Linked DNA regions of Homo sapiens: regions 2, 3 and 4 are each linked to region 1. Evidence: fine-mapped expression QTL. A gene starts in region 1. Each other region holds a variant in brackets. All regions are shown on one strand. Distances are from middle to middle. Region 1 holds the start of WDR45B (WD repeat domain 45B). Region 2 holds the start of METRNL (meteorin like, glial cell differentiation regulator). Region 3 overlaps WDR45B (WD repeat domain 45B). Region 4 overlaps WDR45B (WD repeat domain 45B).

Region 1 (5,197 bases):
TGTTCCTTCCCAGGCTGGGAGGCTCTGGGGAAGAACCGTTCATGCCTCTCCCGGCTCCTGGTGACCCCACGATTCCTGCACTTGCTGACTTAGGGCTGAGCACTCCAGTCCCACTGGCTGCTGTCCCCTGTATCTCCTCCATTCCTGTCTCCTCCAAGGGTGCCGGTCACCAGCTTTAAGGCCCACCCCAAATCCAGGATGATCTTATCTCGAGATCCTTAATTACTTCTGCAATGATTCTTTACCTAAAGAAGCCCCTATTCTCAGGTTCTGGGTGGACCTATCTTTTTTTTTTTTTTTTTTTGCGACAGAGTCTTGCTGTGTTGCCCAGGCTGGAGTGTAGTGGCACAATCTCAGTTCAGTGCAGCCTCAGCCTCAATCTCCTGGGCTCAAGCCATCCTCCCTCCTCAGCCCCCCAGGACACATCTTTAGAGGGTCACCATTCAACGCACTGTGGTGGGCAAGGCTGCTTTGAGTTTCCTGGTTAGGATACAACCAGCGCTGTGTGTGGATGTCCACACATGCCCCCGCCCCCGGCTGTACAGCCACCGGGAGACTGAGTAAAATGTGAACTGAAGGAGGCCCCAAGGGTGGCAAGCAGAGAAATGAAGGGAAATGTCCCTTACCCACGCCTCTCTCCTTCCCCCACGTGACACTTCTCACAGCAGGTACCGGTACGTGTGCACAGAGGAGAACCCAGTGCCCTTCAGGGAAGAGGGTGCTGAGCCCCTGGACCGCACTTAGGTCTCGCCCCAGCTCTGTGATTTGGACCTGGGCCCCCGAGCCCTAGTCACAGCCGGGGCGGCCCAACTCGCTCCGCCATCGGAAGGCTTCTGGTCGCTCTCAGGGAGGAGCCCCTCTCGTATGGGAATCGAGGTGTTCAATGCCCACGATGCGGAGACCGCCTGGCCCGAGTGGGCCAGTGATCTCAGCTTACAGTCCAGCTCCTTCCTCCCCATGGCTAAGAGGTCAGCACCAGCTCAGGCAAGTGGCGAGGGTGGGATGAGGATGACAGACGGGGTGGAGGCAGGTGGCTGCGAGGGGACAGTGTCAGGACCTCCTAGGAGATCAGGTGTGCTGCAGGGAACAGGGAGAGCCTAGGAGGGGACAGGAAAGTGAGGAGGGGGAGTGGAGAGGACTCCCTGGGCAAGAGACACGAGGGCCAGCACTCAGGCCTCCACAGCCATCCACTGCATGAGCCAAGCCCAGGGACAAAGCTCTGTGACCAGGATGCCCCCAGCAGCCTGACCCTAAGAGTTGAGAACTGTGCCCTGTGAGCAATGTGACCTGAGGGTCCCGGAGTCCTGCGGGGGCTGTGCTGTGTGAGGGCCACCTGTCCTTTAGGTGGGGTACTAAGGGGTTGTGTCCTCTATGGGCTGTGTCGTGGGGGGGCTGTGTGTCCTCTGGGGGGCTATGTGTCCTGGGAAGGTCCCTGTGTCCTGGGAAGGTCTCTGTGACCTGGCGGTCTGTGTGTCCTGGGGGGGCTGTGTGTCTTAGGGGGACCTCTGTGTCTTCTGGGGGAATATGTGCCCTGGAAAGGACTCTGTGTACTGGGGGAGGCTGTGTGTCTTAGGGGGGCTGTGTCCTGGGGGGGTTTCTGTGTCCCGGGGGGGCTGTGTGTCCTGGGAGTGCTGTGTCCTGGGGGACCTCTGTGTCCTGGGGGCACTGTGTGTCCTGGGGGGACCTCTGTGTCCTGGAGACTGCGTGTCTTGGGGGTCCTCTGTGTCCTGGGGGGTCTCTGTCCTGGGGACTGTGTGTCTTGGGCACCCTCTGCGTCCTGCAGGAGCTGCGTGTCCTGGGGGGGCTGAGTGACTTGGGGGCCCTCTGTGTCCTGGGGGTCTCTGTCTCCTGAAGGGGGACCCTAGTATTGTGGCGCTTCTGGGCTTGCCTCTCATGAGGGATGATGCACCGGGCCTCAGTTTTGGGTCAGCCTCCTTTACCGGCTCTCCCCCCTTCCTCCGACCGTCAGGTATCCGTGCCAAGCCCTCAACGGGCCATCCTCCTTCCCGCGGCGACCCCGCGCATGACAAGGCCAGACCCTCCCGCGAACGTGCTCTGCGCTCCCGCCTGGCCCCTCCCCGCCCCGCCCCTCCCCCTCCTCCCCGCCCCGCCTCGCTCCGCCCCTCCCCGCCTCCGCCCCGCCCCGCCCGCCCTGCCTCTCCCCGCCTTTCCTCGCCTCGCCCCGCCCCGCCCCGCCCCCTCCTCCCCGCCCCGCCTCGCTCCGCCTCTCCCCGCCTCATCCCGCCCCGCCCGCCCTGCCTCTCCCCGCCTCATCCCGCCCCGCCCGCCCTGCCTCTCCCCGCCTTTCCTCGCCTCGCCTCGCCTCGCCCCGCCCCGCCCCTCCCCGCCCTGCCTCGCCTCGTCTCGCCTCGCTTCGGTTAGATGCGCTCGGCGCTCCATAGGCTCCCTGGTGGGGCGCGGGCGCGCGCACGGACGTCCAGCACGCACGCACGCACGTCCAGCACACACGCACATCCAGCACGCACGCACGTACGTCCGGCACTTCCGGCCGCGGCGGCCTCAGCGCCGGCCCGAAGGGACCAGGCCGCCGTCCCCAGCGAGAGGCATGCAGCGCTGAGGAGCGGCGACCCAGCACGGCGGCGCCATGAACCTCCTGCCGTGTAACCCTCACGGCAACGGGCTGCTCTACGCCGGCTTCAACCAGGACCACGGTGAGGAGGCGCGGCCCTGTCGCCTTGCCCGGCCGGGCCTTCCCGCAGCCCGGGGTCCCCGGCTCTCAGGCCTCTCCTGGGCGCCCCTTTCCGGCCAGGCCTTCCACCCGGGACCCCGGCCCCGCCCGAGCTCCCCTCCGAAGCCCCCGGCCCCGGCCCTCGCCGCTGCTCCCAGCCCGAGCCGGGGTCCGGACCAGGCCCGAACCGGCTCCCACCTTCCTGGCCTTTCGCGCTCCCCCACCCCCCGGGTTGTGACCGCTCCCAGCCGGCCGTCCCGGGCCGAGGTCGAGGTCGGTGGGAGACGGCACAGAACCCCAGCCTCCTGCGCGGACGCCCCTCCCCGCGCGCCACGCCCACTCGGGTTCCCTGGCTCCCTGCGGGCTCCACGGTTATCGGGATTTTCCCCACAGCGTGATTGACGCCCTGCCCAGAACCCCGTTTTGCCCCCTGTTCCTTTCAGGGTCTTTAGTAGGTAGCCCGTGGCTGAGCTGACTTCGCTTGGGTTTACTGGAGCCGCGGAGCCGGCGTCTCCGACGCCTCTGGTGGCGAGTGGCGCGGGTGGGGTGCAGGTCTCACCTTTCCCGTCGGTTTCCATCGGAAAATGTCACTCTCCCCACCCCCACTCCCCGGGATTTTTCTTCGTGTTTGGTGGAGTCAAAGGACTTAAGGGAGGCCTTTGAGGGAAATCTTACTTCTTTTCCCATGTCGGAATCCAGGTGTAAGCACTGGATGATTTAAAGCGCCCAGGGAAGGTGACCTCCTTCCCCGCAGGTGCTTCGGAGCTGCGGGGGATGCGGCCGGGGCGGCGCGGTCGGATTCCCGCGGGAGGCGGGCGGGACCTGGATTCGGATGGTTGCCTCCTCACCTCCCATTTGAAGGGCGCGCTTCCCAAAGGTCCTGATGGGGAGGAAAAGGAATGTCCGTTATTCCGAGACAGGCTTCTGCGAGGCTTTACATGTTGGCTTTGGAAGTTTTGTTTTTGAAGAGAATCCAGGCAGGTGCTGTATGATCCCGTATATGTGAAGACAATTTTATTTATTTATTTATTTCATTTTGAGACGGAGTCTCATTCTGTCGCCCAGCCTGGTGCGATCTCGACTCACTGCAACCTCCTCCTCCCGGGTTCACGCCATTCTCCTGCCTCAGGCTCCTGAGTAGCTGGGATTACAGGCGCCTGCCTCCACGCCCGGCTACTTTTTGTATTTTTAGTAGAGACGGGGTTTCACCATGTTGGCCAGGCTGGTCTCAATCTGACCTCAGGTGATCCACCCGCCTCGGCCTCCCAAAGTGCTGGGATTACAGGCGTGAGCCACTGCGCCCGGCCGGATTACACATATTTGAAAGAACTCCCTCTCAGTGATTTTGATGCCTGATGCCCTGGGACCAGTCAGGCTTCCTGGGCGCTGCCAGCTTCCCCAGGGTTGTGTGCTGGGGTTTCTCCGGAAGAAAGTTTTGCTGAGATGGTAAGGGAGATGCCTAGCCTTCTCAGAGGGTGGTTTCCAACCATCTGGTGTTTGTAATGCCTTCTTTTTAGTGAAGTGTGCTATACCTGTAGAAGGGTGGATATATCATAAGTGTTCAGGTGATGAATTTTCCAAACTACACACCTGTCACTAACAATTAAGAAATTGAATATACCTGGCCACGCTTGATTCCAATAAATGCTCCCTACCTGACTTGTGACATCATAGATTAGTTTTGCCTACTTCTGTACTTTATTTTTGTACTTATTTTTGTTTCTAGCTGTTTTTTTGTTTTGGGTTTTTTTTTTTTTTTTTTTTTTTTGAGACGGAGTTTTCGCTCTTGTTGCCCAGGCTGGAGTGCAATGGCGCGTTCTAGGCTCACTGCAAACTCCGCCTCTCAGGTTCAAGCAATTCTCCTGTCTCAGCCTCCCGAGTAGCTGAGATTACAGGCATGCACCACCATGCCTGGCTAATTTTGTATTTTTAGTAGAGACTGGGTTTCTCCGTGTTGAGTCTGGTCTTGAACTCCTGACCTCAGGTGATCCGCCCACCTCGGCCTCTCAAAGTGCTGGGGTTACAGGCGTGAGCCACGGCGCCAGGCTGTTTCTAGGTTTCTTACTCAACATCATGTTTGTGATTTTTTTTTTCCGTATTGTTGAGTATAGTTGTAGATCTTTTTTTTTTTCTTTTTCCGAGACGGATCTTGCTCTTGCCCAGGCTGGAGTGCTGTGGCGTGATCTCAGCTCACTGCAACCTCTGCCTCCTGGGTTCAAGCGATTCTCCTGCCTCAGGCTCCCGAGTAGTTGGGATTACAGGTGCCCGCCACCGCTCCCGGCTAATTTTTGTATTTTGAATAGAGATGGGGTTTCACCGTGTTAGCCAGGATGGTCTTGATCTCCTGACCCTGTGATCCACCCACCTCGGCTGCCCAAAATGCTGGGATTACAGGTGTGAGCCACCGTGCCCGGCCAGATCATTCTTGATGTACAATGTTCTTTTGTGCAGACATACAACAATTCATATATCCAGTCTACCATGGTTGGGCATTTGGGTACGTTCCAG
Region 2 (5,107 bases), 430 kb before region 1:
GGGCTGAATCACTCCGCGGGGGCAGGGGCGGCCCCAGAAGAGCCGTCGGCCTCGGAGGCTCCCGGCGCCGGCGTTCCCGGCCGACCCCCCCCAGACCTCCATCCGCCCGCGGCCCCGCTCGGCCGAGAAGGGAGGCGGCCGCTCCCGGGACAGCCGGGCACCGCCCACGGCCCTCGGGGCGACTCTGCCCCCCAGCGCCACGCCCCTTCCCCCGGGGAGGCTCCGCCGGGGGCGCTGGGGGGCGACTGTGGCTTCGCGGGGACCCGGAACGGAGGCTGCGGCTGCGGGGAGACCTGCGCCCGCCCCGCGGACACCACCCGCCCCGCACCGGCTCTGCCCCGACCTTCTCGGAAAACAGCTTCGCTCGACATCACCGCGTGACTCGGCCCGCGGCGGGGGCGGGGGCGGGGGCGGGGGCCGCGCCGAGGGGAAGCGGGACCCAGGCCCGGGCCAGCCCGGCCACGGCTCTCCGGGAGGCGCGCGTCACTCGGGTCCCCGCGCATCTGCGAACCCCGGAACTGGCGACTGCGAGGCTCGCGCAGGGCGGGTTCGGCCGCGGTGCCCTCGGCGCCCTGGGCTTCGCGTGGGAGCGGCGGCGGCTCCCGAGGGGCAGTCGCGGTCGGCGCCGCTCTCGGCGGCCACGCTTGAGTCAAAAAAAAAAAAAAAAAAAAAAAGTCCTCGGCCGCCACCGCGGGTGGGGGGGGGGGGGGTCGCCCAGCGCAGCGCGCGCCGCGGCCAAGGGCGGCCTGACCTTCACGGGGCAGGGGCGGGGGGCCCGGCCGGAGCCACACTCGGCCCGGCTCACAGGTGCCCGCCCGCGGCTCCCCGAGACGGAAGTGGCCCCCGCTGCGGTCCGCGCCCGATCCCCGAAACCGCCGCTCCCTCCCGCGGCCGTCCCTTCCCGCTCTGGCCCGGGGCGGCCTCGGGGCGCGCAACTCCCGGAGCCTGCCAGGAAGGGCCCGAGGACCGACCCCCGCCTGCCCCCGGGATGGGGTCGCGGGACCGGCGGCCCCCGAGGCTCGGACACGCGCGGAGCCGGGACCCACCCGGCCGCGCTGCAGGCGCGCCTCCCCCGGGCGTCCTCCGGGCCGGGAACCGGGACGCCGCGGGCTCTTTTGTTCTAGAACCGGGGGCGGGGGACAGCGGGCACCGGACTGGGCCTGGAGAGCGGCCCCCGGAGCCCCTGCCCCGCGCCCGCCCCCGGCCGCGCCCCCGCACGCTCGGCCGGCCCGGGACGGGAGGGGACGCGAGGGGAGGGGGCCGGGCCGGGGTCGCGCCGCGCACACTCACCTCCCCTTCCAGCTGCACCGGTCGCTGGAGTACTGCGCGCCCGCGCCGCCCAGCAGCCCGGCCAGGAGCAGGAGCAGCAGCGGGAGCGGCGGCGGGGGCGGGCCCGGGGCGGGGGGTCGCGGCCACGGCTGCCCCGCGCGCCCCCAGGCCGCCCGCGCCGCGCCCCGCATGCTCTGGCGCCGGCTCCGCCGCCCGGCCCCGCGTCCGCGACCCCCGGAGCAGACCCCGGAGCCGGCGAGCCGGGCGGGGGCGGGGCGGGCTTCGAGTCCGGGTGGTCACGTCGCGCGCCCCCCGCGTCCTCCGCGCGGCCGCCCGCCCATCCCGGCCCGCTGGAGCCGCGCGCAGAGCTCCGCGCCCGCCGCCGCCGCCGAGCCTCTGAAGTTGGCGAGTCCGAGTCCGCCCGGCCGGGCTCAGCTGGGGGGTGGGGCCCACCCGCCGCCCCGCCCCGCCCCCGACCCCGCCCCCGACCCCGCCCCGCGCCGGAAACTCCTCCCGGGGCGCCCGGCCGGACGCGCAGACACCGAGTCAGCAGCGAATCGGGGGCGCGGGCGCCGGGGCGGGGGGCGCTGCAGGAGGAGGGGGCCGCGCCGGGCGGCGAGCGGGGTCCGGAGGGAAGAGCCCGGCCTGGAAAGCGGAGTCCGGGGCCGGAGGGGTTGCAAGGCGAGGGCGGGGCGGAAACCCGAGACCCCCAAGTAGTGGCCGACGCGAGCCGCGGTCGCCCCCCGCAGACCCCCGCGAGGCGGTGCCGGGGCCGCATCCTGCGCCCCATCCTGCGCCCCATCCTGCGGGCAGCCCCGGCGCGGAGCGGTAAAGGAGGCTCCCGGCCCCGCCGGTTCTGGGTCCCCCGCGCCTCGCCAGCGGGCGGTGATCAGGGGCGATCCGGGCGCCCCGCGTTCCGCAGAGTTGGTGCCTCGGGAGTTCCCGGCTCCCTCCTGACCGGGGGGGAGGCCCGGCGGTGAGCCCGGCTTCCCTCCCTCCTCCCGGAGGACGTGCAGCCGCCGCGCCGGGGCCTCTGCCGAGCGCTGCCCACTCCTCGCTCCGGATACGCGGGGCCGGGTGGTTCTTGGGGTGGGGACGTCCTGCGCATGGTGGGATGTTGGCAGCACCCTGGCCCCCGCACTCTGGGTATCAGTAGCAACCCCCGCCCCAGCTTTGACAACCTAAACTCTCTGCAGATTTGGCCAAATCCCGCCCCCACCCCGTGCCCGCGGGGCAGAATCACCTGCGGAGCGTCCTGCTCGAGTGTGTTCCTCGGAGTCGGCGCCTTCCCCAGGTGGTCACCGCGGCCACCACGTGCCTGACCCAGT[G/T]GGGGGGACAGCGGAGACCCCCGCCCGGACTGGGGAGGCCCTAGAGACTCAGGCCAGAGAAGGGGAGCCAGAGGGTGCCGAGGGCCCCCCAGGCAGGAGAGGGCGGAGCTGGCCCGCCCGGCGGTCCCCGCTGCGATGGCAAAGCTGGCTTCTGTGTGCTGCGGGTCAGTGGCCCTGCCCGAGACGCCTGGTGTCAGTTCCAGAGCCGAGCGCAGCATCCAGCGGTGGGGAAGCTTGGCCTTGTCCCCTTTTCCAGCCAAGATACCTTCCAGGAGGACTTGCGAACGACCTGTGCAAGTCTGAATAACTGGGTTGTGACTACCAGAGGAGGCGGGGAGAGGGCTTTGAAAATTGTGAGTCTGCAGGGACGGAAGTCACCGGCAAAGGCAGGTGGAGCCCAGCCCCCAGCCCAGGAAAGCTGGGACAAGGGTGAGGGTCTGAAGAACTGGAAGGCGATGACAGTGACCACTGAAGGTAGTTTCATTGTAAGGATCTGTTCAGAGCACCCACCCCATCGAAAGCCTGGAGCCAGGACCTTGCCCAGCACATCAAGTGACATCACCCTGAGGCTCAAGGTCTGGTGGAGGTGCATTTCGGAGCTTGGAGACTGCCCCACCCACCCCCGTCTGCTCTAGGAGTGCACCTCCCCCCACCCCCATCACTGCAGGTACCAGGGTGCCCAGTGGAAAGGGACCTGCTGTGGAAAGGGACCTGCTGTGGAAAGGGACCTGCGGCTTCACACCTGTGCGCAGCAACTGCTTTCCATGCCCACCAAGCATAAGATAGCAGCCCCCCCAGGCCCGGTCCACCCTTGAAGGGCCACATGGCCTATCAGGGTCCAGATCATCACACCACGGAAGAGGCAGGGCAGTGCTGGGATCTCTTGAGTTATAGATGCGGACATGGGGAACTCAGGACCTGCCGTGACCTGCTCAGGGTCTCAGAGCCCCTGGTGGCTGCTAGACCGAAGGGGAGAGGCCGCCTCTGGTCAGCAGGCAGCTGGTTCCAGCCTAGGCTGGGGCAGAGATCTGCCACCTGGCAGGATGCCCAGCCTCCTGTGCCCAGCGGGCTGTCCTAAGACTGGGATCGTACGATGGTGAGTATGGGACCCACGTGTACTTTTCAAAACCCGTAGAAAATACAGCACAAGAGTGAATCCTGATGGAGGCTTGAGACATTTGTAATAATAACGGATCAATATTGGTTCTTTGACTGTCACACGCCTACACCCTAATGAGAGAAGGTAATCATAAGAGAAACTGGGTCAGGGAGAGGGTGTGTGGGGGACCTCTACCATCTGCTTGGTGTTTCTGTAAACCTAAAACATTAAGTCTGCTAATTAAAACAAAACAAAACTAGAGTAAGAATGCTTGCTGGCCAGTATTCTCGGAAGAAGCTAATCTGTCTTGGGAAAGGAGCCTGGCCCTTTCCACCCTGGGGCTGTGGTTCCCCAAGCTGTTCCCTTGAGGAGGTTCATGCCCCAGAGACATTGGGTGCTCCTGGGCACCTCTGCTGACCCCTGTCCTGGCCCAGCGAGGCCACCTACAGGTGAGACGTCCCCTGTAGACGGGGTTCCTGGTGTCAGGAGGTATCAGGCTCCTAGAGGATGCAGGCTGAGGTGGTCAAGGCTGTCTGGGGGTGTTCCCAGCCACTGGTACACTGCCCCTTGTACCACCAGACCCCGAGAGGCCGATTATGAACCAAAAGGATCCCAGCTGGTCATGGTGTGTGGCCCTCCCCCTGGTCCTCTGGGAGGGTCTGCAAGGAAAGGGCCTTGGGTGTGTTTGTCCCTGGATGTCTGGGAAGGGACTGCTTCCCAGTGAGCATGTCACGGGGTTAGACCCAGGAAGGGGCCACAGCATCATCCCACCCACCCACTCGTGGGAAGGAGCTGGTCTTCGCAGCTTTGCGTGAAGCTCTGATACTTCCTACCTGAGTCGGAACGTTGAGGCTGAGCCGTGGAATCGGAGAGCTCCAGAACCCACCAGGATCACGCCTGCCCATTCCCTCTACCGGCGGGCCCTGCAGTGATGCTTCTGCATCCTGGGAGATGGCAGCTAAGGGACCTGGGCCAGGGGGGCCTGTGGCCCAACCGTAGGTCTACATCAACCCTCTCTCTTTCCTCATCTATCCATTCCCTCGAGAAACAGCTCTCAGAAGCCTCCTGGGCAGACGTCCGTGAAAAAAATTCTGGGTGCACCCTGGACAGTCCTTCTGTGCCTCACCAGGGTCTGAGGCCTCAGAAAGCAGGACGTGGCCTCCCATGTCCGAGGACCACGACCCACTGTTAGGATCGAGTGACCTCGGCAGGGTCACCTCTGTGTATTTGACCCGGGAGTTTTTATCGCGTGCATTGCAGGGACCCAGCACCTGGGAATTTGCTGGGGTGGAGGGCTGTGGGACTGGACCCCTTTCTCGGCCTTTCCTATGCCGGGTGCCTACAGGCCCTGTGGGGTGGTGGACGGACCTGGCTCGGACGTCAGCCCCCAGCTCTGGGTCACAGACATGGT
Region 3 (5,000 bases), 20 kb after region 1:
GAGGAAAGAGGGCTCAAGGCGAAAGATCCAGGAATGGAGGGCAGAACACAGGGAAGAGGTGGGAGGCGGGAGGTAGGCTGGGTGGGGGAGGTGGGAGGCAGATCTGGGGGAGGCTTGAATGCCAGGTAACGTGTGGCCAGGAAGGAGATGCCGTCAGATCTGTGTTTTGGGAAAGTTCTGGTCTAGATGCAGTGCATGAGGTGAGTGAAGAGACACCAGAGGATGGGGCAGGTGTGGGAAGCCCCCGTTTATGGGGAGAGGCAGGAAAAGTGGAGCAAGCATCCTCGTCTGAGCCCAGTGCCAGGCGGGAGGAGGCCTGAGAAAAGCCATCTGGTTCTGGTGACATTGAAGGCCACCGGTGGTCTCAGAGGATGACTGAGTGGGAGCCCAGTGGTGGGTGGGTAGGGTGGGAGGAGGTGAGGAGGGAAGGAGAGGCTCAGTGAGGGAGGCAGTTCAGAATCAAGACCAGGATGGGGCTCTGGGGGCGCCGCATGCCAAATGGGAAGTGAGTGGGTGAACTAGGATCTGGGTGATATCACGTACTTAGGAATAGAATAGCCCAGGTCAGATCAGGCACAAAAGGATTGTGTGGAAAGGCAGAAGGTTCCAGATGACTCGTGACAAGCTTTGGGGCCCAGCTCACAGTTCTCAGCAGAGCCCCGTGAACTGCGTGAACGTGAATGTGCGGAAGAGAGACCACACTCGGGTGAGGACTGGCCCTGCCTGATACATTTATTTTTGTTTTGGAATTAGGAACAGAGAAATGAAATGGGAAGAGATTATCGGTAGGAAAAACAGTGGAAGACAGGGCTTGAGATCTTGGCCTTTGAGCGGTTCTGTAATCTCACAAGGTTTGTCTGTGCCAGCTTTAAAGCAGAGTTGAGAGTGGCTGCTAGCATAGCCCAGAGGGGCAGAGGCCTGTGGCTTGTGAGTCCTCTGGAGGAGCCCACCCAGAAGGGACAGCGGAGGTTCCACAGAGAGAGCAGGGCAGGATTTGCAGGAGAATGACTTTGCCCTGGCTAATTGGGGATGGGCAGAAATCCTGCTGGTGAATTGGTCTGTGTCTTGTCATGGAGAACTTCATTGACCATTAAGGAGGAAAGGAAGCTTATAGATGGAAGTCAGGAGGCCTAGAGGGCCGCCTCCCTTGCCCTACCTCTGGCACTGCTGGGGGACCCCAGGTGCTAACAAGGGAGCCATTTGTATGAGATAATCTCAGGTCTCATTCTCATTATAAAGTTTCTAAGAGGTGAAAAAGCCTTAGAAACTTCACAGACTTAGAAGAAAGCAGTATTCAGCAGGTTTTTGAGTAAATGTACTTTTTGTAGCGTTTAAAGGTACTTTTTTTTACTAGTAAACTTGATTTTTATTTATTTAGTTTTGAGACAGGGTCTCACTGTGTTGCCCAGGCTGGAATGCAGTTGCGCAGTCCTGGCTCACTGCAGCTTCTACCTCCCCAGGCTCAGGTGATCCTTCCGCCTCAGCCTCCCGAGTAGCTGGGAGTACCGGAGCACCCACCACACCCGGCTACCTTTTGTGTTTTTAGTAGAGACGGCGTTTCCACATGTTGCCCACGCTGGTCTCAAACTCCTGAGCTCCATTGATCCGCCTGCCTCTGCCTCCCAAAGCGCTGGGATTACAGGTGTGAGCCATCACACCCAGCTGTGTTTTTTGTGTGTTTTTTTGAGACAGGGTCTCCCTCTGTTGCCCAGCTTGGAGTGCAGTGGGGTGATCATAGCTCACTGCAGCCTCAGACTCCTGGACTCTACCTGAGTAGCTGTGACTAATTTTTAATAACTTTTTTTTTCAGAAATGGGAGTCTCACTATGTTGCCCAGGCTGGTCTTGAACTCTTGGCCTCAAGCGATCTCACACCCCAGCCTCCCAAAGTGCTGGGATTACAGGCGTGAGCCACCGCACCCATCCCTCCTGTGGTTCTTCAAAAGCACGGTGCTGGTTGGCATTCTCATCCCTAAAGCTTGTCGGTACATTAGCCCTTAGAACACAAACTGCTAATTTATGCTAATAGAATGTTGCAATGTTAGCAGGCAAACAAGACAGAAGAAATTTTGAACTTAAAAAGGAGCAGGGGCTGGGTGCAGTGGCTCACACGTGCAGTCCTAGCACTTTGGGAAGTTGAGGTGGGCAGATCACTTCAGCCCAGAAGTTCGAGACCAGCCTGGACAACATGGTAAAACCCCATCTCTACCAAAAATACAAAACTTAGCTGGGCATGGTAGTGCATGCCTGTAGTCCCAGCCATTTGGGAAGCTGACGTGGGAGAATCTCTTGAGCCTGGGAGGTCAAGGCTGTAGTGAGCCAAGATTGCGCCACCGCACTCCAGCCTGGGCGAGAGAATGAGACCCTGTCTCAAAAAGAAAAACA[G/A]AAAAAGAGGAAGAACAACCCAGGACCTTGAGTGGAGTGAGGAACTTGTTGGCCCTGATTTGTGTCCCTCTGATTTCACTTTAAAACTGAAACCTCCCTTCCTGATGCAGGTTTATTTGCAGCACTTTTAACATCAGTACCTATGGTCAGGCTTGCCTATGGGCTCAGTCGGGTGGAATCAAGGAAGGTCAGGGAGAGGAACGTAACCAGGCAAGGGCAAGGGTTGGCAGAGAGAGATGAACGCGCTCAGCGCGCCTGTGTGCGAGGCCAGTGGGTCGCCTGAGACCGGGACCGGGCTGTGCGCACTGAGAGAGGAACGGACGGGGAGGGAGCAATGGTTGGCAGAGAGAGATGAATGCGCTTAGCGTGCCTGTGTGTGAGGCCAGTGAGTGGGTCACCTGAGAACAGGACCGGGCTGTGCACACTGAGAGAGGAATGGGCGGGGAGGGAGCAAGTGGGCAGCCAGCTACCAAGAAGGGGAGACGCTTTGAGTGGGGAAGGTGCCCGAGGGCGGATCCCTGGCACAGCTCACGGTTTGAGTTACACCCCAAGGCCTCCCAGGTGCGGGTGTGTGTCTGAGGCCTGAGGGTGGGCGCAGCTGTGCCAGTGGGAAGAGAAAACACCTTAGGCGCCAAGCTGGCATCGCTGCATCCCAGCGCCATGGCCTGCTGATGACTGCATTCATCTTTTCTTTCTGATATTTCAGTAATGATCTGGGATGACCTGAAGAAGAAGACTGTTATTGAAATAGAATTTTCTACAGAAGTCAAGGCAGTCAAGCTGCGGCGAGATAGGTGGGTTTGGTGTCAGTAATTTTTTAAAGTGGTATTTCACTTTCTCAAAAGATGGCTGAAATACTTTTCTATTTTTGGCAGAAAAATGTTTAGGAAATGATGTATTAAAATGTTGGTCCTGGTTTTTATGACCATAAGGATATAAGGATTATTTATATTGCTGCAAGAAAGGCAGCGAATTGTGTTTGTTTCCAGGGCTCCGCTGGAGGTAAGTAGGTGGTGGCGTGGATGACGTGCGCCACAGTGGACCAGCCAGTGGGTCTCACCGTGGTGAGTTATGTCCCATTCCGACATGTGCAGAGCTGAGGACATGAGTTTTGAGCCTTGAATTACCCTGGGCTTTTAGCCCCTGCTTTGCCAAATGCTGCCTCTCAATAAAGGTTTTCGGTTTGAAGGTAAAGGAAAATTGAATTTTCTGTGTTGAAAGTAGCAGGTGGTTCTGTCAGCCATGGTCTCAGGGGCGTTTAGGGGGAATATGGAAGTTTGTCCTAGTACGTTGAGCAAGATAGCGCAGAGTTCGTTCATTTGGGTTTTTATTTAATATGATTTGCATATTTTACTCTAAGATTTCCATCTCTGTCGGCTGTGGGAGGACAGCAGCCGAGCAAGTTGGATGTAAACAGAGGTCATTTCACCTCCCTGCCCTTTTTTTTTTTTTTTTTTTTTTTTTGGGAGATAGAGTCTTGCTCTGTTGCCAGACTGGAGTGCAGTGGCACAATCTCAGTTCACTGTAACCTCTGCCTCCCGGGTTCAAGCAATTCCTGCCTCAGCCTCCGGAGTAGCTGGGACTACAGGCGCACACCACCAAGCCTGGCTGATTTTGTATCTTTAGTAGAGACAGGGTTTCACCATGTTGGCCAGGATGGTCTTGATCCCTTGACCTCATGATCCACCCGCCTCAGCCTCCCAAAGTGCTGGGATTACAGGTGTGAGCCACTGCGCCCGGCCAACTTTCCTGCATTTTTGTGTGGGTTTGTCATTTTAATAACGTCAATATTTAAAGGCCCTTAGTAATGCAAATGTGGCCGGGCACCGTGGCTCATGCCTGTAATCCCAGCACTTTGGGAGGCTGAGGCAGGCGGATCACAAGGTCAGGAGTTAGAGACCAGCCTGGCCAACCTAGTGAAACCCCATCTCTACTAAAAATACAAAAATTAGCTGGGCATGGTGGTGCACGCCTGTAATCCCACCTACTCAGGAGGCTGAGGCAGGAGAATCGCTTGAACTGGAGGTGGAGGTTGCAGTGAGCTGAGGTTGTGCCACTGCACTCCAGCCTGAGCGACAGAGTGAGACTCCATCTATAAAAAAAAAGTAATAATAATAATAATGCAAACGCTTGAGCCAGATCGAGGATATTCTACTTTCAGACTTTTCTTATTTTTTCCAGACACAGTAGCATAAAAATATCACTTCTGTCTGTTTTGCTCGGTTCTGAACCTAGATGGAGTGTTTGATGATGTCTCTCTGAACCTCAGAGACGTCTCTTAGGCTGACCTTCACCCAGGCGAGAAGCACTCCCTCAGCAGAGCCAGCCCACGTGCACTCGCCGAGCTCCAGGCCTGGCGCTGGCTACCTGCCTCCAGAGCTTTTTCTTCAGGAACACTCCTTTTCTGTGTGGTATTTTCAGTGTTTCTCAGTTTCAGTATGATAAGAACAGGAGCATAAAATGTTTGGGTTTGACTCTTGAGGAAAGCAACTCTGATCATGTTTTTCTTTCCAGAATTGTGGTGGTTTTGGACTCCATGATTAAGGTGTTCACATTCACACACAATCCCCATCAGTTGCACGTCTTCGAAACCTGCTATAACCCCAAAGGTGAGAG
Region 4 (5,226 bases), 35 kb after region 1:
TAGGTAACTCAGTGGCTGTGACCAGCTCGACTGGCGGCCACTGGCTGTTCCCATGAGTTCAGCTGTGACGTTAGCTTCAGTGGCTCCGCCGCATCCTCACACTGACGGGGGCTCCATACGGACCTGGGGACTGGGCTGAGAGGGTGGACGAGTTCAGGTTTGTTTTTGCAGCAGATTCCGTCGTTCTTACTGAGTCTGCAGCGGGGGAGTGAACAAGTGTGCAGATGTAAGTTCTTACATGATAAGCAGATTGAATACAACACCAGCAGCTTGCCTTAGAAAAGGAGAAAGGAATTCCTTTTCCCGCCCGAACATGAAGAAAAATGACCTGACCCTGTAGAGAGAACACAGTGTGAATGTTTCCCCTCGTGTGAGCCCAGCCTGTGGTCTTCTCCGTACCCGCAACGTGGTCATCTGTGCCCGTGACGTCACCTGTGCCCGTGCGTGGCGTCCCCGTCTCCGTTGGGGCCATTAGAATGAGGCAGACACCAGGCCACTCTAGAAGCCGAGCCGTCACACCTCAGGCGTGTGCGGGGCGGGGACGGGGGGTCTCCTGGTTACATTTTGGATTAAACCTGTTTCCCGGTTATGTGTAGGGAACAGCAGAGTGATGCACGAACTTTGAACATTCGTTATGGGGAAAACATCCTTTAACTTCGGGGTCGTCTGCCAGAGCAGGGTCTGGGAGGGTCCATGCAGTTCCCGCTGGTGTGGAGGGAAATGCCCTGGTCTGGCCTCCGAGCCCCCAGGTCCACCGTCTCCCCTCCCCTCATTTGTAAGAATAGCTACACACTAACATTTTGGGAAGGAGAGGCACATAACTTTTTTTAACATTTGGTAACTAGGTTATGGGCTCTACATTGTCAGCTACTTGGGATATATATTTAATTTTCTTAAATTCCCGTTAAACTCTATTTTATGGTTTTGATTTCAGATTGCAAACATGTAAAACCTGCATAGCAGCGAGTTCTCGGTTTTGCCGGTTTCTTTAGTTCTTTACTGTCACTGTCATGTAATCAGCTAATTCTCTGTGGATGTTGCTGTAAAGTATGCATGTTCCTTTCATGTGTATTTAATCATGATGTTTAATTTTGCACACTTATTTGTAATGTTTCTTTTAAATAAAAGTGACTAATTTTGTTGTAGTCTGGACCTGTAATGGGAAGTAGAATTGTGTGTTATGAAGCCAAACACTCTTCCCCTTGCTGTGAGAATCTGGTTGGAGTGTAGGCTTCAGAACAGCCTGTGGGCCTGAAGAGGCGCCGGCCTGTGACAGGACAAGGTGGAAGCCAGGGTCACTGGGTGCGGAGCCTGGAGCTTCACTCCCTGTGTCGGGACAGGACAGCCTGCCCTCCTCATTCCCTGTGTCGGGACAGGACAGCCTGCCCTCCTCACTCCCTGTGTCGGGACGGGGCGGCCTGCCCTCCTCACTCCCTGTGGCGGGACGGGGCGGCCTGCCCTCCTCACTCCCTGTGGCGGGACGGGGCGGCCTGCCCTCCTCACTCCCTGTGGCGGGACGGGGCGGCCTGCCCTCCTCTCTCCCTGTGTCGGGGATGGGACGGCCTGCCCTCCTCTCTCCCTGTGTCGGGACGGGGCGGCCTGCCCTCCTCTCTCCCTGTGCCCCAAGGGCACCTCTGGAGGAGGGAGGGAGGAAATGCATCTGTAGGAGGCCTGTGTGGCTCTGGGAGGTCTGAGGCTCCTGCTGGCCTGTGGAGGTGGAGGGTGGCTGGCAGCAGCAATGTCCCTGCATGTTGAAGTGGCAGCTTCAAGTGAGCCGGCGTCACCCTGGCTTGTCTAACACTTGAGATCTGACTCTGGGTGGGGGAGTAGGAGCGTAATTACCAGTTGATAAACATGAATCTGGGGGAAATGCATGCAAGAAGGGTGGGTTTTCTCGCAGTGCACGTGAACAGCCTCAGAACTGATGCGGACGGCGGGGCTGTGTCACAGGCCCGTTCACCAGGAACGTGGCGAGGGCCTGCACGGACGTGCCTCATGTGAGGCCCTGGCGGCACCGGCCCTCCCCAGGCATGTGCTTTTTAAAAATCACTGTAGAGCGGCAAGGACACGGTGTCCCTAGGCCGGCGGACTCGGGAGCGCAGCTGCTTTTCAAGTGGAACTGATGGGAAGCGCAGTGTATGGGAAACAAGGCCGGGCTGCT[G/C]CCTCCCCCACGAACCTCCTGTGCCCCGGACGTGGGTGCGAAGGGACTCCAGAGTGACTGCCTCAGACGGTGCCTACTCAGCAGCTTTCCTGTCTGATCGTACAGGTGCGTGGGCATGGATGACTCCGGCTGCGTTTCTGGTCTGTCCTCCCTCCCCTGTGGCCCTGGGATGTCTTGCGGGGACAGGCGGCTTGTGCCCTGTGGAACGCAGCCCTGACCCATACCCACCCTGTGTTTGGCGTTGATGCCTGTGTGAACCCCTGGCCACCTCCCGCTCCCACCACTGTAGTCGGGGGCGCTGGCCATCTGCAGCCTTCTGTGATCAAAGAGTTTTATATTTGTGTTTTCTTTCTGCAACCAAACCAAGCCCCTGAATGCCAGAGCTCTTTCACGTGACTTAGTCCTCATCTCTCTTCTGTTGTGTCAGAGGCATTTGGTTGATGACATTGTTGAAACTTGTACCAAAATTTTTCTCTTCCAGATGGATCAGAGAATACAATGAAAAAAAAGTTCCTTATAAAATAATAGAAAAATATAAATTTGTAAGCAAAATTGCCCCGTGTTTCTACCTCCAGAGAAGATCACTCTCAGACAACCCCACACCTGAACGTAACATCTATTTTTATTTAAAAAATTGTTTTGGTAGAGACGGGGTTTCTCCTCCACCTCCTGGGCTCAAGCGATCTTCCCACCTTGGCCTCCCAAAGTGCTCGGATTACAGCCACCACGCCTGGCCGCCTTTTTTATTTCAGATACATTTGTCAGTTCTAAAGTTGGTTTCTAATTCGTGGCTGATGACTTGTGTCTGCCCATTTGTACGCGCTCTGTGCGCTTTCAAGTCCTTGTCTGCCGATTCCAGCATCTGGGTCTTCTTGGAGGATGCCTCCTGATTTTCCTTTATTGAGTGGGGACTTGGGGGTGACCCTGCCTGCCGCTAGGAATGGCTGTTGAATTTTGTTAAGTGACTTTTCTGCATCTGTTGTGATGATCACACCTATCTTTTACGCCGTGAACGTGGAGCATCACGTTGATTTTTGAATGTTGAGCCAACCTTGCTGTCCTGTGGGAAAGCCCACTTGGTCACAGTGTGTTATCCTTAAATACTGCTGAATTCGCCAGGCGCGGTGGCTCACGCCTGTAATCCCAGCACTTTGGGAGCCTGAGGTGGGTGGATCACCTGAGGTCAGGAGCTCGAGACCAGCCTGGCCAACATGGTGAAACCCTGTCTCTACTAAAAATACAAAAATTAACCAGGCGTGGTGGCGCGTGCCTGTAGTCCCAGCTACTTGGGAGCGTGAGGCAGGAGAATCAGTTGAACCGGGCAGATGGAGGCTGCAGTGAGCCGAGATCGCAGCACTGCACGCCTGCCTGGGTGACAGAGACTCTATCTCAGGAAAAAAAAAAAAGAATTCTACTAATACTTGGGGATTTTTTTTTTTTTTGGATGTATATGTATAGAGGATTCTTATTTCTAATTTAGCTTGTAATATTCTTGCCGCATTCTGGAATTTCGTATCAGGTTAGTGATTTTGTGGTTTTGGCATTAATTTTAAAATGATTTGTCTTACGCAACATCCACCAAAATGTAGACATACAATGGGTTTTAACAAAAGCAAATGTAGACTTGAGACTGAGGTGGCATCTAGTGAAATGTCATTTCTTTTGTAGCTCTGTTCAAGAGAGACGCCACCGTCTGTAGAGGCCGTGAATCCCCCGACATTTGCTCTGAGCCTCCCACAGACACCTGCGGCCCCATCTTGAGTTGTCCATGCTGGCTGCCAGCCAGAAGCCTGTCATCTGTGTAAGATGTTTCAGATGGTGAGTCTGACGACGCTTCTGGGGCATGCGAGCTGAGGGCTAATTATCTCCTAATCTCTCTCGGGTATGTGGAAAAAACAGGCAAGGATCTGGCCAGATACTGTGGAAAAGGGTGTCCTCCTGACCTTGATAGCAGAGTGTAACTCCAGAAAATCAGCATTTTTCTACCTCAGTTTCAGTATTTGCACAAGGGACTTGAACTTATGTCTCACATTATTTTTACCATTATCAGCATATACGACAGCTGCCTATCCTTTTTTTTTTTGAGACAGGGTCTCACTCCAGGCTGGAGTGTGGTGATGCAATCTCAGCTCACTGCAACCTCTGTCTCCTGGATTCACGTGATCCTCCCACCTCAGCCTCCTGAGTAGCCGGGACTACAGGCGTGCACCACCACGCCCGGCTAATTTTTGTTATTGTTTTGTAGAGACGGTGTCTGTGTTCTCCAGGCTGGTCTTGAACACCTGGCCTGAAGCAGTCCTCCCACCTCAGCCTCCCAAAGTATTGGGATTACAGGTGTGAGCCACCGTGCCCAGCCGTGCTTCTTTTTTTCTTTTTTTTTTTGGCTCTGTCACCCAGGCTGGAGTGCCGGGGTGCAATCAAGGCTCACTGCAGCCTCGCCCTCCTGGGCTCAAGTGATCCTTCTGCTCCAGTTTCCCAAATAGCTAGGACCATAGGCATGCACCACCATGCCTGGCTAATTTCTTTATGTTTTGTTTGTTTGTTTTTGAAACGGAGTTTCGCTTTGTCTCCCAGGCTGGAGTGCAGTGGCTCAACCTCGGCTCACTGCAACTTCCACCTCCCGGGTTCAAGAAATTCTCCTGCCTCCACCTCTCAAGTAGCTGGGATTACAGGTGTGCACCACCACGCCCGGCTAATTTTTTGTATTTTTAGAAGAGATGGGGTTTCACCATGTTGGCCAGGCTGGTCCCAAACTCCTGACCTCAGGTGATCCGCCTGCCTCTGCCTCCCAAAGTGCTGGGATTACAGGTGTGGGCTACTGCACTCAGCCTACCTAGCTAATTCTTAATTTTATGATTTTGTTTTAGAGGTGGGGGTCACCCTGTGTTGTTGCCCAGTTTCGTCTCAAACTCCTGGGCGGAGCTGGGCATGGTGGCTCACGCCTGTAATGCCAGCACTTTGGGAAGCCGAGGTGGGCGGATGACCCGAGGTCAGGAGTTCGGGACTAGCCTGACCGACATGGAGAAACCCCGTCTCTACTAAAAAAATACAAAATGAGCCGGGCG

The links.
Region 2: its variant is fine-mapped to the expression of WDR45B in anterior cingulate cortex (GTEx, PIP 0.96).
Region 3: its variant is fine-mapped to the expression of WDR45B in whole blood (TOPMed, PIP above 0.99). The same link has a PIP of 0.9 or more in neutrophils.
Region 4: its variant is fine-mapped to the expression of WDR45B in blood mononuclear cells (TOPMed, PIP above 0.99).

What each region holds. Positions count from the first base shown.
Region 1 is chr17:82,645,749-82,650,945 of GRCh38, reverse strand. WDR45B (WD repeat domain 45B) reads left to right here and starts at 2,502. Exons shown (of 10, transcript NM_019613.4): 1 at 2,502-2,672. The coding sequence starts at 2,606. RefSeq lists enhancers at 1,910-1,979, 2,358-2,857 and silencers at 2,270-2,339, 2,940-2,989, 3,000-3,049.
Region 2 is chr17:83,076,169-83,081,275 of GRCh38, reverse strand. METRNL (meteorin like, glial cell differentiation regulator) reads right to left here and starts at 1,667. Exons shown (of 4, transcript NM_001004431.3): 1 at 1,291-1,667. The coding sequence starts at 1,460. The variant G/T (reference allele first, on the strand shown) is at 2,598.
Region 3 is chr17:82,625,382-82,630,381 of GRCh38, reverse strand. WDR45B (WD repeat domain 45B) reads left to right here. Exons shown (of 10, transcript NM_019613.4): 4 at 3,091-3,178; 5 at 4,899-4,993. Among named protein-coding and RNA genes, the nearest start is that of WDR45B, 21 kb to the left of the region's middle. The variant G/A (reference allele first, on the strand shown) is at 2,385.
Region 4 is chr17:82,610,495-82,615,720 of GRCh38, reverse strand. It overlaps WDR45B (WD repeat domain 45B), which reads left to right. Exons shown (of 10, transcript NM_019613.4): 10 at 1-1,159. Among named protein-coding and RNA genes, the nearest start is that of FOXK2-AS1, 25 kb to the right of the region's middle. The variant G/C (reference allele first, on the strand shown) is at 2,162.